2 separate regions of the Homo sapiens genome follow, and region 1 is reported to be linked to region 2. Evidence: microRNA targets listed by miRTarBase, many of them from high-throughput screens and not tested one by one. Region 2 holds a microRNA gene; the other region holds the end of a gene's coding sequence. Distances are from middle to middle.
What was found. Region 2 holds the annotated microRNA hsa-miR-3912-3p (UAACGCAUAAUAUGGACAUGU, at 1,320-1,340, shown strand). A microRNA usually pairs through its seed, bases 2 to 8, with sites in the 3' UTR of a target mRNA and lowers its output. Matches are read on the target gene's strand: a 7mer-m8 pairs with bases 2 to 8, a 7mer-A1 pairs with bases 2 to 7 and ends in A, and an 8mer does both.

Region 1: miRTarBase lists HNRNPA0 as a target of hsa-miR-3912-3p. Seed matches in the 3' UTR shown: 7mer-m8 at 1,707-1,713.

Annotation. Positions count from the first base shown.
Region 1 is chr5:137,749,869-137,753,868 of GRCh38, reverse strand. It overlaps HNRNPA0 (heterogeneous nuclear ribonucleoprotein A0), which reads left to right. Exons shown (of 1, transcript NM_006805.4): 1 at 1-4,000. The coding sequence ends at 720. Among named protein-coding and RNA genes, the nearest start is that of HNRNPA0, 2.5 kb to the left of the region's middle. RefSeq lists enhancers at 1-76, 587-746, 156-847.
Region 2 is chr5:171,383,530-171,388,017 of GRCh38, reverse strand. It overlaps MIR3912 (microRNA 3912), which reads left to right and starts at 1,258; the gene lies at 1,258-1,362. NPM1 (nucleophosmin 1) reads right to left here and starts at 169. Exons shown (of 11, transcript NM_002520.7): 1 at 12-169. The coding sequence starts at 69.

The DNA.
Region 1 (4,000 bases), 34 Mb from region 2:
GCCTCGCCCCATGCCGTGGACGGCAACACTGTGGAGCTGAAGCGGGCGGTGTCCCGGGAGGATTCGGCGCGGCCCGGTGCCCACGCCAAGGTTAAGAAGCTCTTTGTCGGAGGCCTTAAAGGAGACGTGGCTGAGGGCGACCTGATCGAGCACTTCTCGCAGTTTGGCACCGTGGAAAAGGCCGAGATTATTGCCGACAAGCAGTCCGGCAAGAAGCGTGGATTCGGCTTCGTGTATTTCCAGAATCACGACGCGGCAGACAAGGCCGCGGTGGTCAAGTTCCATCCGATTCAGGGCCATCGCGTGGAGGTGAAGAAAGCAGTCCCCAAGGAGGATATCTACTCCGGTGGGGGTGGAGGCGGCTCCCGATCCTCCCGGGGCGGCCGAGGCGGCCGGGGGCGCGGCGGTGGTCGAGACCAGAACGGCCTTTCCAAGGGCGGCGGCGGCGGTTACAACAGCTACGGTGGTTACGGCGGCGGCGGAGGCGGCGGCTACAATGCCTACGGAGGCGGCGGCGGCGGTTCGTCCTACGGTGGGAGCGACTACGGTAACGGCTTCGGCGGCTTCGGCAGCTACAGCCAGCATCAGTCCTCCTATGGGCCCATGAAGAGCGGCGGCGGCGGCGGCGGTGGAGGCAGTAGCTGGGGCGGTCGCAGTAATAGTGGACCTTACAGAGGCGGCTATGGCGGTGGGGGTGGCTATGGAGGCAGCTCCTTCTAAAAGAAAATTTAAAATGCCTGGGAGTGGCTATAGGGGTAGCTCTTTCCAACAGCCCAAGTGGGGTCAACTCCTAAGCCCCACCCCCTCACACACACCGCCTTCCCTGTTTTGCCCTTGGGGGAGCCACTTCTAAGGCTGCTTACCCTTGGGGGTGTTCCTCTATTTGCCTGCCACCTCTCTTGTCTCTCCCTCTGAAGATGGACTCGGCCCCACATACACATTTTTGTGTTACAGTCATTGATGGACTCTATTTTTTTATTATTACTTGGACCTTGGTCGTTTTTATACTAGCAAAATGTCTTGTTTTAATTTGTGTTTTTTGGGGGGAGGGAGGGAGTGAACTTGCTGATTCTGTAGCAAAACCTGGGTGGGGGTTGGGGTGGGGGGTAGTTTACTTTGTTGTAAGGACTTGATAACCTGGCTACAGCGTTTTCTATGAAATCTACTTGGATCCCATGCCTGAAATTTGGAAGCATATGTACAAAAATCATTTTTACGTTTTATTTTTAATAAATCATTGTGTTTGACCGTACATGTCTAACATTTTTTTTCTAGGATCCATTCCGTACCGTTTTTTAAGGGATATTTGTTTAAGACTTTACGTGTTAATTCTTTATTCTTGATGTGTACTTAGAGAAACTTAAGAGGTCCTGTGGTTTTTTTCCCCTCTCCTGTTGCCCTGCTAGTTGCGTGTTGAATTATATCCCTTACAGGCAAAACTTTTGAAGTGGTGGATGTGGCTTTTTAAACTCTTAAGTTTCTGTGCATCCATCTCTTGTACTAAGCGAATTGTTTATCATCTTGACATGGTTGGTCATTTCTATGACAATTTACTTCAAACTGTGTACTGTGTAGTTCTATATAGTTTGTGTTAAGCATGTCATTCATATAAACTGTTTAAAATTTTTCAGATGGCCTAGTTTCATCCCTCTTACTGGTTTGTCTGTAATGAATGGTTAAAAATAAGGGTTATATTTTACCCTCAAATGCGTTTTTGTACTTTCAGAGCAGGTTTAAACGTTTTTTTTTTTTTTTTCCTATATCCGAACTGTTGGCCTCATGGAAATCCCTTTCCCGATCTTTGTAGCACCATCTACTGGCAGAATGGCAGAGTAGCTGCGAAACAATTTGTTTAAAAACTTGCTTAAGACAATTGCATCAGATTTGGAAGTTTTGCCATCAAAATTCTTTGCAGAATTGGAAGTTAACACATTTGCTTGTAACTGAGATGGGCTTCACAGGAATGTAGTTGCCAGTTCATATCACAATAGCCCTTTCTATATGAGGTTTGAAAATGTAAACTGCTATGCATAGCTTGGGCAATAGCCCTAAATTGCTATGACAACTAATGAACCAGCTACGTATACTGGTATTTTAGGTGCAAGTTGTAAAGCAAAATATCTGTGTATTCTGCTTGGTTAACAAATGTATATTTGTAGCCCTTTCCTGCAATAGCATTCAAGTTGTTGTTTATAAGAGAAGAACAAAAGTGATAATAGGTGAAAATTGCCTTTCTGGATAGAAATAGAGAATAGCAACGTTTATGGATATCACAAATAAAGAATTCAATTCTTTACATGATTGAGTGAGAGTATGTATAACCTGGTGGGTGGGTTCAGAGTACCTTTTAATCTAGTATGCTTAACTTGATGTTAATATTTAACTTAAATATTTGACTTACATGTTGACGTTGAAGGCTCAAAGCTATACTAAGAAGCTTTCTGAAAGATTGGGCTTTAAAATAAAATAATATTTTAATATTGAACCATTTTTTAACTTCTTGTCACTGTTCAATTCCTAAGGTCTAGTTCTTGCCAGTTTTTTTTTTTTTTTTCCTGATTGGCAGGGCTTTTAAAGAAGTAAGAAGAAAGGTTAAGATTATTAGGCTAGGTTATAGCTGCTCAGTAGTCATTTTGACAAAGGGTAGCGGATGGTTGGTACAAATAGTGTTATATCCTCTATGACAAACGGGGTGGATGTTTTTACACATTGAGGTAATACATAGTCAAATCCTTTGCTCTCAAATAGTTGTACACTTTCCATACATTTCTGTCTTATTTTTTAATTCTAGTGATACACAAATTACATGTGGGCTACTTCATTTGGTAATTTGGTCCAGCTTTTTGGTGGCTGTAGAGTGGCCTCTAGGATACAGAAAATGATTCTCTGAAATTTTTCGTTGTAATTGTTAAATACTACTCTGCTTGACTTACTCAGTTTTGGTGGGAAGATCTGGGTCAATTGGAATAGTACACCTTTCTCAGGGTTTTCAGTTTAATAAGGTTGTCATATTATTCCCAACATGGGAATATAGTGGCTTCTAAAGTTTGCAAATGAATTATGTAAAAGGATTTTCTGTGTATTAGGAAGGCAACCTGTTCTGTTCATGGTATATTAACACTTCATTGTCATGTGTCTACCCTTAAAATTGCTATTTGTAGTGAAGAAAAAAGCATAGTGGTATTTAGTCACTTCTGGGTTCCTCTTGTCAGTTTATATGCAAACATTTTGGCATGTGGGACTTGGGGAGGAGGGACAATTGGTTGTATGTTTTGACCACTTCCACCTATGAAAATTATCTGAACATTATTCAGATTTAAGAGTTCATGGGAGCAGGTGGTACAGAACCTAGTGTTGAATATAATTTTTGTGCCATGCTTGAATGTATTTTGACGGATTAGCAAAATAAAAGTGAACCTCCTATTTTTCATCTTAATGTGAAGATCTTTGGCATTTACATTCTTTTAAAAGTATAAATTCAGTAGTCATTAGTTGAAAGTGGTTTGAAAGGCTGTTAGAGATGATACAGGTTGAGTATTCCTTATCTGAAATTCTTGGGCCCAGAAGTGTTTTGAGTTTTAGATTTTTTTCAATTTTTGAATATTTCCATTATGTTTACCAGCTGAGCAGCTCTCATACAAAAATGTAAAATCCAAACTGCTTCAATGAGCATTTCCTTTGAATGTCATGTCTGCACTCAAAAAATTTCGGATTTTGGAGCATTTTAGATTTTTTGATTGGAATATCTGTAGTGTTTTTCAGGTCATTTAAAAAGCTCTCATTGGTACTGATTTACTGTATCCAAAAAAAAGCCTGCAAGTGGTTAAGGTTCACAGTGATAACTATCAAATCAGAATGACTATACTGATTGTACCCATTCATCCATTTTTAACTTAGTGATTTGGAACGTTTCATATTCAAATCTAATTTTCATAATTTTTAAGTAAACCTAAAAGATTGAGGATACTTGAGAAATTTGCATTTATGATTTCCTTCAAAA
Region 2 (4,488 bases):
CCAGCAGTTACCGAAAAGATAGTTCTGGGGCCTCAGGGGGCTCATGTCCATGTCCATCGAATCTTCCATCGGGTGGCGGCACGCACTTAGGTAGGAGAGAAGGCGGACGGAGATAAAAGAACGCTGCTCCAGAGAACAACCGCGCAGGACGGAATCACACCAGGGAAAGGACGCAGGCTCCCCGCGCTTATATATAGACCCTGAAGATCTCGCGAGCGCTTCCCAAGTCCCGCCTCCGCGCGCGTGCTCCGAAGCCCTCCCACCCCCGTACCGTAGCCGTCCTGCGCAAGCGCTTTTCAACCCCACTCCTTTCTACCTCGCCCCCACCTCCTTCCAGGTACTCCGCGGGCTCCCACCGAGCACGCGCACTCGTACACTGGCCCCACCCCTCCGCTGCTGTCGCCTGTGCGCACGCGTGCTTTCCAGTCGTAACGCGCACTCCCCACCTCCAACCCTTCCACGTCCTCTCCCGCTCAAGCGCGCCGGCCTCCCGCCAAGAGTCTGCGCAGCCCACCCTGCAAAATGGCGTCGGCAGCCCTTAGCTGTGTAAGATATGGCGGGTTAGCCGGCTGCGAATGAGCCAGAGAGCACCTCGATTCACCTTTCCCCATCCCCTAGTGCCCTGCAAGCCTCCAAACAGGCGTAATCACTTCAGGAATTTTTTACTTGCCTGAAGGCTTCGGATCGCAGTTAATCGTTACCCCAAAGTTCAGGTGCCAGAGAGAGTGAATTGCGGCTTATTCTTTGTTAGGAAGGAAAGATGTAGTTACCGGCCAGACTTACGGAACTTTGTTTTTCAGCTCTGTCCTTCCTGAGAAAACATCTCCAAAGTCCTTATCTTTACGTAACTTGGGGGCCAAAAGGGGACTGAATCAGTCTCCAAATTAGCAAGGACATCGCCCTAAGAGAGCTCGGAGGGTGGGCCGACTCTGACTTCTTGCCGCTCTTAATCTTTAACATTCCTCCTGAAAGAAAGCGGGTGACTTGTAAGAACTACAGAAGCCTTAATTCGAATATTTGGGAGCGAGCATGGGAATTAACGTTTTAAGCTACACCTTGACAAACTCCGAGGCACCCCAGCACCCCGCGGGCATTGGGGCGTTCTGAAGACCCGTAATCTTTTTTTTTTAAGCCTCAACATATCAAACAAATTTAAGAAGTGAGGAATACAAATGATAGCCTCAGAAAGGAAGACACCCCCACCCCAAGGCATTATTTCTTACAGGAAAATTATAGAGACGATTTCAGTGTCTATCAAGAGAGGAATGAACAGTTAAATTATAACATGTCCATATTATGGGTTAGTTGTGGACACATACTAACGCATAATATGGACATGTTATAATTTAACTGTTCCTTTCTGAGAGCTCCTGTGTCACATAAAGCTTTGAGTCACTTAAATTTGTTATGCCTTTTTTTGTGTGTGTGTGGAGACAGAGTCTCGCTGTGTTGTCCAGGCTGGAGTGCAGTGGCGTGATCTCCGCTGGATGCAACCTCCGCCTCCCGGGCTCCCGAGTAGCGAGGACTACAGGTGCATGCCACCACGCCCGACTAATTTTTGTATTTTAGGAGGGATGGGGTTTCGCTGTGTTCTCCAGGCTGGGCTCAAACTCCTGACCTCGGGTGATCCGCCTGTCTCTGCCTTCCAAAGTGCTGGGATTTCAGGCGTGAGCCACCGCACCCAGCCAGCATTTTTTTTTTTTTTAAACGGGGTCTCGCTCTCTTGCCCAGGCTGCAGTGCAGTGGCAAGATCTCTGACTCACGAGTTCTGCCTCTTGAGTTCCAGCAATTCTCGTGCCTCAGCCTCCCAAGTAGCTGGGATTACAGGTGCCTGCCACCGCGTCCAGCTAATTGTTGTATATTTAGTAGAAACAGGGTTTCGCCATGTTGGCCTCCCAAAGTGCTGGGATTACAGGCGTGAGTCACCACACCCGGCCACTGTTTTATTTTTTATTTTAATTTTTTTTTTTTTTGAAACCGAAGTCCCGCTCTGTCATACAGGCTGGAGTGCAGTGTTATGATCTTGGCTCACTGTGACCTTTGCCTCCTGGGTTCAAGTGATTGTCCTGCCTCAGCCTCCCAAGTAGCTGGGATTACAGGCGCCCCCCACCACGCCTAGCTAATTTTTGTATTTTTAGTAGAGATGGGGTTTCACCATGTTGGCCAGGCTGGACTCGAACTCCTGACCTGAAGTGATCCACCCGCCTCAGCCTCTCAAAGTGCTGGACTTACATGCGTGAGCCATGGCGCCCGGCCTTATCTGAGACTTTAAAAAAAAACAATCCAGCAAAAGGGGAGGAGAAAGGAGAGTGGGAAGGTATATATGAAATAAGATTGACTACATGATGATAATTGTTAAAACTGGGTGATGGGTATATGGTTGTTCATCATAGGATTCCTTCTATTTTTGTTCTTGTTTGAAAATTTCCATGATAAAATGTGTTAAAAAATGAAGATTAAAATAAAACTTGTATTTAAAAAATGGTATATCAGTTTATCCTGTGGAATACTGTGCAACTTCTAAAAAGAATACAGTGGTCCCCTATATATTATATCCTGGAAAGATAGCTATGCCACATGAAGTAAAAAAGCAAAGTTGGAGAACAATATATATATAATACGACCCTGCTTACGTAAACAGTGAATGCCAGGTGCAATGGCTCATGCCTGTAATCCCAGCACTTTGGGAGGCTGAAGCAGGAGGGGTTGGAGTTGAAGACCAGCCTGGGCAACATAGTGAGACCCTGTTTCTACAAACAAACAGAAAAAATTAGCCGGGTGTGGTAGCACATGCCTGTAGTTCCACCTACTCAGGAGGCTGAGGTAGGTGGGAAGATCTTAAGCCTGGAAAGTCAAGGCTGCTGTGAGTCATGTTCACACCACTACTCTCTAGCCTGGGTGACAGAGTGAGAGCCTGTCTCTAAAAAAACCAACCAACCAACCAAAAAAAAGAAAAAAGAAAAGAAGCATTTATATGTACTGTATATATATTTGTAAGTGCCTGCTCTACTTACTGTGCAAATCCATTTCTTAGAATACTCTACAAAACTACTTTCAGACATTAATAATTATATAGGTACAAAGATATTTACTAAAGCTGTCTCTCCCTACTTGGAAAGCTGAGGCAGGAAAATCACTTGAACCCAGGAAATGGAGGTTGCAGTGAGCTGAGATTGAGCCAGTGCACTCCAGCCTGGGTGACAGAGTGAGACTCCATCTCAAAATAGATATATTTATTTCTAATAGTATGAATTACCCAGTTCAAATACCCCTGTCTCTTACAGTTGATTTGCTTGAATAAGGATCAAAACAAGGTCTACACATTACCTTGAGTCATGTTGTCATTTAACATGTTCCTGGCCGGGTGTGGTGACTCACGCCTGTAATCCCAGCACTTTGGGAAGCCGAGGAGGGCGCATCACCTGAGGTCGGGAGTTCAACACCAACCTGACCAACATGGAGAAATCCCGTCTCTACTAAAAATACAAAATTAGCCAGGCGTGGTGGCATGCCTGTAATCTCAGTCTGTAATCTTCTGTAAAGGAGAATGTTTCTTGATCAATTATTTGATTACCCTAAAAAATCGTTTTCGGCCAGGTGCAGTGGATCACACCTGTAATCCCAGCATTTTGGGAGGCCAAGGCAGGTGGATCACCTGAGGTCAGGAGTTTGAAAACAGTCTGACCAACATGATGAAACCCTGTTTCTACTAAATTAAAAAAAAAAAATAGCTGAGTGTGGTGGCATATGTCTGTAATTCCAGCTACTTGGGAGGCTGAGGCAGGAGAATTGCTTGAACCTGGGAGGCGGAGGTTGCATTGAGCCAAGATTGCACCATTGCCCTCCAGCCTGGGCAACAAAAGTGAAAACTCCGTCTCAAAAAATAATAATAATAATTTTCTTTCTAAGATGGGGTCTCACTCTGTCACCCAGCCTGGAGTGCAGTGGGGTGATCTCGGCTCACTTCCGCCTCCCAGGTTCAAGTGATCCTCCCATCTCAGCCTACTAAGTAGCTGGGACTGCAGGCAAAGGCCACTATGCCCAGCTAATTTTTTGTATTTTTGGTAGAGACGATTTCACCATGTTGCTCAGGCTGGTCTTGAACTCCTGAGCTCAAGCAACCCACCCACCTCAGCCTCCCCAAGTGCTGGGATTACAGGTGTGAGCCACCATGCCTGGCCAAAAATAATTTGTACCACCCTGGGCAACAGGGAGACCCCATCTCTACAAAAAATTTTAAAATTCGTTGAGTGTGGTGGCTCACACATATGGTCCCTGCTACTCAGGAAGCTGAGGTGGGAGGATCACTTGAGACAGGGAGGTCGAGGCTGTGGTAAACCGTGATCAAGCCACTGCACTCCAGCTTGGGCAACAGAGAAAGACACTGTCTCAAAAAATAAATAAATAGAAATAATTTGTATAAGAAAAGCAGGAAAATGATTGAGTCTTTCCCTTTATTTCCTTGTTTTCAGAATAAGGTGGAATCCC